Linked DNA regions of Homo sapiens. The protein of the gene in region 1 interacts with the protein of each later gene in a pairwise test. Each region holds a gene or a part of one and is shown in the gene's direction. Other genes may lie near its edges.

Evidence for each region. The genes of interacting proteins can lie anywhere in the genome.
Region 2: the proteins of PKNOX2 (region 1) and C10orf88 interact in binary tests that used the Homo sapiens proteins (3 or more experiments, as listed by UniProt).

The regions. Positions count from the first base shown.
Region 1 is NC_000011.10:125,162,913-125,166,665, forward strand, and holds the start of PKNOX2 (homeobox protein PKNOX2), read left to right. Parts: upstream 1-1,838; 5' UTR 1,839-1,864; intron 1,865-3,753.
Region 2 is NC_000010.11:122,933,526-122,937,278, reverse strand, and holds part of C10orf88 (ATPase PAAT), read left to right. Parts: intron 1-3,753. UniProt on the Homo sapiens protein: ATPase that regulates mitochondrial ABC transporters ABCB7, ABCB8/MITOSUR and ABCB10. Regulates mitochondrial ferric concentration and heme biosynthesis and plays a role in the maintenance of mitochondrial homeostasis and cell survival.

The DNA.
Region 1 (3,753 bases):
GAGCCATGGGAAAGAGAGAAACTCCTCCCTCCAGGGGTCCTGGGCAGAGACAAATGGATCTCCCCTCCCCCTCCCTTATCTGAAGAGGGCTTCCCTCTGAGAGTTTATGGCAGCCTGACCTCCAGCCTCTGGGTTGGAGAATCTGGCCGCTTCTGTACCACATAAAAAGGGCAAGTGCATTCATTATTATTATATTATTATACAATGTATAATATATAATAGCGATTATGCTGTCAGCAGCCAGAGACTCTGACTGCAGATCAGAGGCTAGGGTGACATAAATCCACCTAGTGAAGTTTTTGAAGGTTCTATGTGAAGGTGAGAGGATTCTAATCTGTCTATAATGGGGGCTACCACTGAAGAGTTTCTCCCACAAGCAACGTTGGTGGGTGGATTTGAGGGTATTGGGAGGATCTGGACAAACAGTAGTGTGTGTATCTGGGATGTGATATAAGAAGGGTCTCAATTGCCTCCCCTGAGCCAGGCAATGCTAACAGCTCTCATCCTTGCCCATGACGGAGGCGGGTGAGTGGCGACCCAGAGGCCTGAGAAGAGCTCAGGGGCAGCCTTCAACTTCTTGGGTCAGATTCTTTACTGAAAACCCAGAGGCTGGGTTTCACTTTCTGCTTTCCCGCTTTTGTCGGTGTCTTTGTCTGGGCTTCTTCCAGGCCCCCTGCCTGGCCTGGGGTCAGAGGATCAATGGCTGCCTGACTGGCTGAAAGGGCTCCTCTATGGGGAGCAAGAAGCAAACTTCCAGAGGCAGAAGGGGTTCTCTTGTCCCTTTATGCGGAGGGCCATGTGCTAAGTTGAGGAAGCAAGCAAGTGTGCTCCTGTGTGTGGCTCTTAGTAGGACTGTGATCTCTGCTGAGTGAATGGAGGCGCTTGTGGGTCTACACATGCCTGCTTTTGTCTTCCACTGTAGAGGGCATGTAAGGAGCCCATTTCCTCCCTGATGTAGATGAAGCCACCCCAGCAGGCCCAGGCTGAAACAGCCCAGCTGGTCTTTCCCTTTATATGACTGCACCCCAGCCCCCAGAACTCTGGGAACTCACTGAGTTTCTTGAGGACTTTTTATTAGAATGAAAATAGCAGTGGCTTAGAACAGGCTTGCCTGACATTTGCAAAGAAGTGCTTTACTGACAAAGCCTATCCACTCTTTCCTCTCTCCCTCTGCCCCACCTTGAACCAGACACCCCGGGAAGCCCACAGCAGAAAAAGCTCTTGAGACCAGGAATAACTAACCAGAGTGTCATCTGAACACCTTTTCTGGGGCCAGGGTAATGAGAATTATTCAAATGCAATCATAAAAATGAGGCCAGCCAGGCAGGAAAAGGGGGAGGGGGAGTGCTGGTGGAAGGAAGGATTTCTTGCCCGTTTTAAGTTTCATCATTTCTGGGGAGTTCTCTTGGGGTCCACAGAAAATCTCACCTCATCTCGGTCCCCTCAGCACCGGTGATATCTTGGAACTCGGCCCCGGTTGTTCGCTAAGGAGGACTTGGCTTGGGGGCGGGAGGGTGCTCCAGAGTTCCTGGGGGTCCACCGCACTCCCCATCCGAGGCTCCTCGCGAGCGGAGCCGCTTCTCCAGGCCGCCCGCCTCCCTGCCGCAGGAGCAGGCCCGCGCCCGCCGCCCGAGAGCCTCCGGTAGAGGGAGACACTCCAGCGGCTCCTCCGACTTGGCAGCGGCCGGGCCGGGAGTGGGTGGGGGTGATGGGGGGTGGGGAGAAAAGGGGGAGTGGGGAGAGGGGAGGTGTGTGAAGGGGGGGTCCGGGGGGCGGGTCCCTGTGCCGCTGACGTCCCGAGCAGTGCTGGGAAGTATAGGCTGTGTTGTCACGCCGGTGTCAGTCTGATGAAGATTGGCATCAGGTAAGCTGTCATTCATTTCCATGTCAGAGACGCTTTTGCAGGCGGCGGCGGCGGCGCGGCGGCGGCTGCTGCTGCGGGCGGCTGCCTCAGAGCGCGTGTGTTTTATTCCAGTCCCCAAGCCAGAGTATTATTCATTGCGACAGGGCAAGGAGGAGAGAGGGAGAGAGGGAGGCAGCAGGGAGGAGAGAGAGGGAGGCAGCAGGGAGGAGGGAGGCAGGGAGCAGCGAGGGACGGCGGGAGCGTGCAGAGAGAAGCTGGGGAAGCGCCGGGAGAGCGCGGAGCGGAGCAGCGCGAGGGGCGGCGAGGCCGGGCACGGAGGCTGCGAGAGCCCCGCGGGCCGCCCGCTCCCCTGCCCGGCCAGCGCTCAGCCCCGCCGCCGCCGCCGCCGCCGCCTCGCCGCGCTTGGGCCCGTGGCCGGCCGCGCATTGTCCTCGGGTGCAAGGAGCCGGGCTGCGGACTCGAATCGCCGCGGGCCCAACCCCGTAGCGGGCGGGCGGGGAGCTGTGCGCCAGGAGCGCCAGGGGACCCGAGAATAGGAACAGGCACGCCGGCCCGAGCCCGGGTGCAGAAGGCTCCCGGCCGGGCGCTCCGCGGGGAGAGGCTGGGAACCGCGGGCAGGCTCCAGGTTCTCTTTCTCCCGGCTTCGGGCGTCCTTGGGGCCGGCGCTTACTCCGCGCCACCAGCCTGGAGATGCTTTCCAGCGGCTGGAGGCGGGAGCGGTCCCAGGCTGGGGCCAGGTGACCGGAGGAGTCGAGGAGCCGCGGCCGCGGCCTGGGGAGGCAGGGCGAATGAGGGTTTGCAGACGGATCAGTGGAGACAGGGGAACACCGGCGGGGCCCGGGAAGCCAGGATCCGAGGGGCTACACGCACGGACCCTCACCCAGGGAGGAGCGAGAATGTGTAGGGTCACCGGCTTTCCATGATTGCTGGGGATCTTTGGTGAGGCGGGCGTAGGGGCCCGCGCGAGGCTTGGGAATCGGGAGCCCTTCTGGCTCGAGAACTAGGGGATGAGTTCGTAAAAGAGGGAACTGAAAGCGATCGAGAGCGGAGAGCTGAGGGGGATGGCGCAGGATCCCGAATCTGCCGCTCAAAGTTTGCATTTCTTTCGGGTTAGGAGACGGGCTTTCCTGGCTCCCGATCCCCAGGAAGAAACGAGCGAAATGGGCCGTCCTTTCCCGGGGCTCTTCACGGGGGAGCCGGGGGTTTCCGCGCGGTGGGGAGACTCGGGTTGGGAATTGAGGGGTAGGGGCTTGTGGATCGGCCTGAATTAGGGCTGGGTTTTAGGACCAGTCTAGAGTTCGGTTTATAGGATCCAGACTGTTTACGGAATCGGGATCGAGGGGCCGATAAGTAGTTTACACGCCGGCCAGAGCAGAGGGCTGGAGGTCGGAGTTGGGGGCTGGAGGAACGGGTGGCGTTTTTAGGATTCAGTAACAGGATCACAGCTTTTTCTTGTGGTGGAAGCTATTGGAATTTGGGGAGGGTAGCACGAGGGGTCCTGCAGCTCCGCGTGTGAAAAAGCGTTTAGGTAGGCGATGAAAGTAGTTGATCTGAGCCATGGCAGGCGAGCCCCGAATTTTTGCTGCTTCCCCCTGAAAGTGTTTCTTTAGGAGGAGAGGACTTGGGCCACACAGGACCCGGTCCTAAGAGAGCGATTCCGGGAAGCGGACAGATCGAAGAGACCTTCTGGGCGAAGCGGCAGGGCAGCCTCGCGGGGCTGGGAGTGGATCTGAGGTCCCGACCCAGGCGGCTCGGAGTGCTCCAGGAGCCACCTGGGTCTGCGGGCGCAGCGCGGCGGGGCGGGAGCGGTGGCCCGCAGGGGCCGCGGCCTGCGATGAAGGCCGGGGGGCAGCGCTAGCAGCGAGGTGCCACAGTGGGCCGAGGAGTCT
Region 2 (3,753 bases), on another chromosome or scaffold:
AACTATATTAGGATAATAATCACTTGTAGTTTACAAGCTATTATCCCCAGTCTCTTAATCCCTTATTTTGGCAGTACATATTTGATTAAGAGATAGCTAAGTATTATGTTCCTAATTGCTTAAGTAGATATAGTATGTCAAAATGGTGTTCTAGACTAGAATTCAGGACTCTAGGTGTGGTTTTGGCTTAAACATGTTGCCACACTGTTTAGTATTCTTTAGCCTAAGAGATTTTATTTGAAAATGAGGTAGTTGGATGATTTTGTAACTAAACGCCACCACCAACCAACAGGATTGAGTTGACATTTATAGAGAACTCTACCAACAATAGCAGAATATACACTTTTTTCAAGCATCTATGGAAGATTTGCAAAGATAGATTATATCTTGAGTCACAAAGCAAATCTGACCAAATTCAAGAGGATTGAAATAATACAATGTGTGTTTTCTGACCATAAATGAATCTAACTAGAAACCAATAAAAGACAACAAAATTTCCAGATTTTTGGGAATTACACAGCATTCTTAAATTTATGGTTCAAGAAAAAGTCTTGACAGAAATTAAACCTATTACACAGAAATGAATGAAAATACAACACATCAAAATTTGTGGGATGCAGTTAAAGAAGTATTGATAAGGATATTTATAGCACTAAATGATTACATTAGAAAAGAGGATTGTTCTTAAATCAGTAGCGTAAAGCTACAGCTCAACCAAAATAAAATAATCTGAATAGTCCTATAACCATTAAAGAAATTGAATTTACAATTTTAAAGCCAAGCAAACTGATCTTAAAGCAAGCAGAAAGAAGGAAATAATAACAGAAATCAGTGTAACTGAAAACAAGCAAACAAAATCAATGAAGCCAAAAGCCAGTTCTTTGAAAATTTCAATAAAATTGATACACTTCAAACAAGACTATCAAAAGATAAAAAGAAGATGCAATCATCAGTATCCGGAATGTAATGAGATGTCACTACTGATCCTAAGGCCGTTAAAAGATAACAAGGGAGGGAATATTACAAACAAATTTATGCTCATAAATTTGACAACTTAGGAGAAATGGATTAATTTCCCCAAAACCACAAACTACCAACCAAACTCAGCCAACATGAAATAAGTAATAAAATAGTCCTATAACCACTAAAAATATTTGATTAATGATTGGAAAGCTCATGAAAAAGAAATATCCAGGCCCAGATGGCTACACTGAAGGTTTCCACTGAACATTTAAAGAACATCAATTTTACATGCTTTTAAAAACTAGAAGAGGAGGGAAGATGTTCCAACTCATTCTGTGAAGTCAGTATTAGCCTGACACCAAACTAGATTGCCCCCCAAAATTAAAATACACAAAAATGCATGTAAATATATGTAAAATATGTAAATCTATAAAAAATACTTATAAAATATATGAAAAAATTTATAAACCTAACAAAATATATAAGGATATGTGAAATGAAAATTATAAAATACTGACAAAGGAAAAGAAAAGCCCTAAAAACTGGAGAGACATACCATATTCATGGATTTGAAGACACAGCATAGTAAAAACGTCAATTCTCTCCTAGTTGATATATAAATTTAATGTAATTCCTATGAAAAATCGAGCATGATTTTTTATAAATATGAATGAGATGATTCTAAAATTTAGAAATGGAGAATTTTTTAAAATGGAAAAATAAAGGAACTATAAAAAATTTTGAAAAAGTGTAAGAGAAATCACTACTTGATTTCAAGACATAGCCACAGTATTCAAGACTGTGTTATTGTCAGAGGCATAGACTTATAGATGGATAGCACAGAAATAACTCTGCACAAGTACACCAACTGACGTTTGACAATGCAAAAATAATTCAATACAGGTAGAATTGTCTTTTTAACCTGTGCTGGAACAGTTGGATATCCACAGGCAAAAAATGAATTGTGACTTAAATCTTATACTTTATGCAAAAATTAACACAAAATTACTTATAGATTAAAATGTAAAATATAAAACTATAAAGCTTTTCTACAGGAGAAACTCTAGGGACCTAGGACTAGGAAATGAGTTCTCAGATATGACATCAAAAGCGTGATCCATAAAATAAAAAACTGATTTATTGGGCCCCATCAAAATGTAAAACTTTTGTTTATGAAAGACACTGTTAGGGGAATTAAAATACAGACTGGGAGAAATTCTTTGCAAATTACAAATCCAGCAAATGACCTGTCTCTGAAGTACATAAAGAACTCTCAAAACTCTATGTTAAAAGCAAATAAAAATAAAACCTAACAATCCAATTTAAACCATGGGCAAAAGAATAGTCATTTCAACAGACAGGATATACAAATAGCAAATAAGCACAAGGAAAGTTGATCAACATTGACTTAGTGACTATTAGGGAAATGCATATTAAAACCACAATATATCACTACATATTTGGATGGCTAAAATTTAAAAATGGTAACAATACCAAATGCTGACAAAGATGTTTGGGAACTGGATCTCTCATACATTGTTGGTAGGAATATAAAATGGTACAGTCACTCTAAAAAATATTTTGGCAATATCTTAAAAACTAAACATACAGTTACCGTACAACCCAGCAATTATACTCCTGGACATCCCAGAGAAATGAAAGCTCAGGTCCACACAGAAACTTGTACACAGTTATTAATAAAAGCTTTCTTTGTAATATCCCAGAAGTCCCAACTAAAATGTCTTAGCAATAGGTGAATGGTTAAACTATGGTACCTCCATATCACGCAGTGCTGATGAGCAGTAAAAAACAACTTGGACATCTCTCAAAGGCATTTTGCTGAGTGACAAAAGAGAATCTCAAAAGGTCACATACTGTATGATCTCACTTTATAATATTTTCAAAATAATAAAACTGTAGAGATGAACAACATATTGATGGTTACCAGGTATTAGGGAAAGAAGACTTTAGGGGAGTAGGTATGACAATAGAGGGGTAGCAGGGAGGAGATCATTGCAGTTAAAGAATGGTTCTGCCTTTTGATTATGGTGGTGTTTAAATAAATATGTGTACATATGATAAAATGGCATAGAACTATACACACACATCATATTAATATCAATTTCCTGGTTTTGATATTGGATTATAGGTAGATAAGATGTGACCATTGGGAGGATTGGATAAAGGGCACTGAGAAACTAATATCTTTGCAACTTCCTGTGAATCCATAATTATTTCAAAATACAGAGTTTCTTAAAAACTGTCTTTGGTGTATTCTAGAGTAGTGGCTCTCAGACTTTTGGTCTTTACACTCTTAATTGAGGACTCCAATAAACTTATGTAGGCTACATAAAAATATTTGTTTAAAAATAACAATAAACCCACTGTATATTAACATAAATAACAGTCTTTATGAAAAAAAGCCAGATTTTCTTTTAAAATTTTATTGAGAATAGTATTATTTTAAATGTACATGAATCTATACATAATAGCTTTTGGCTGCATTATCATGTATATTGAATTATAGCATGTATAGTGAAATATAGCTAGTAAGAGCACAGTAGGAATACTGAGAACAGAGTGGATTAATCTCTGAAAAAGCATATATTTATACACTAAATCTCTACTACCTTGAAATTTTAGGAAAGAAGAATACACAACTACAGATTCTGTTAGTCATCAGGGCAATAACATAGATTTTGTAGCCTCTGGAAAATTCATGAGTATGAGGATGAGAAAGTCGAATAACATCTTAGTATAAACATACTTCTGACCTCAGTGAATTCCCAA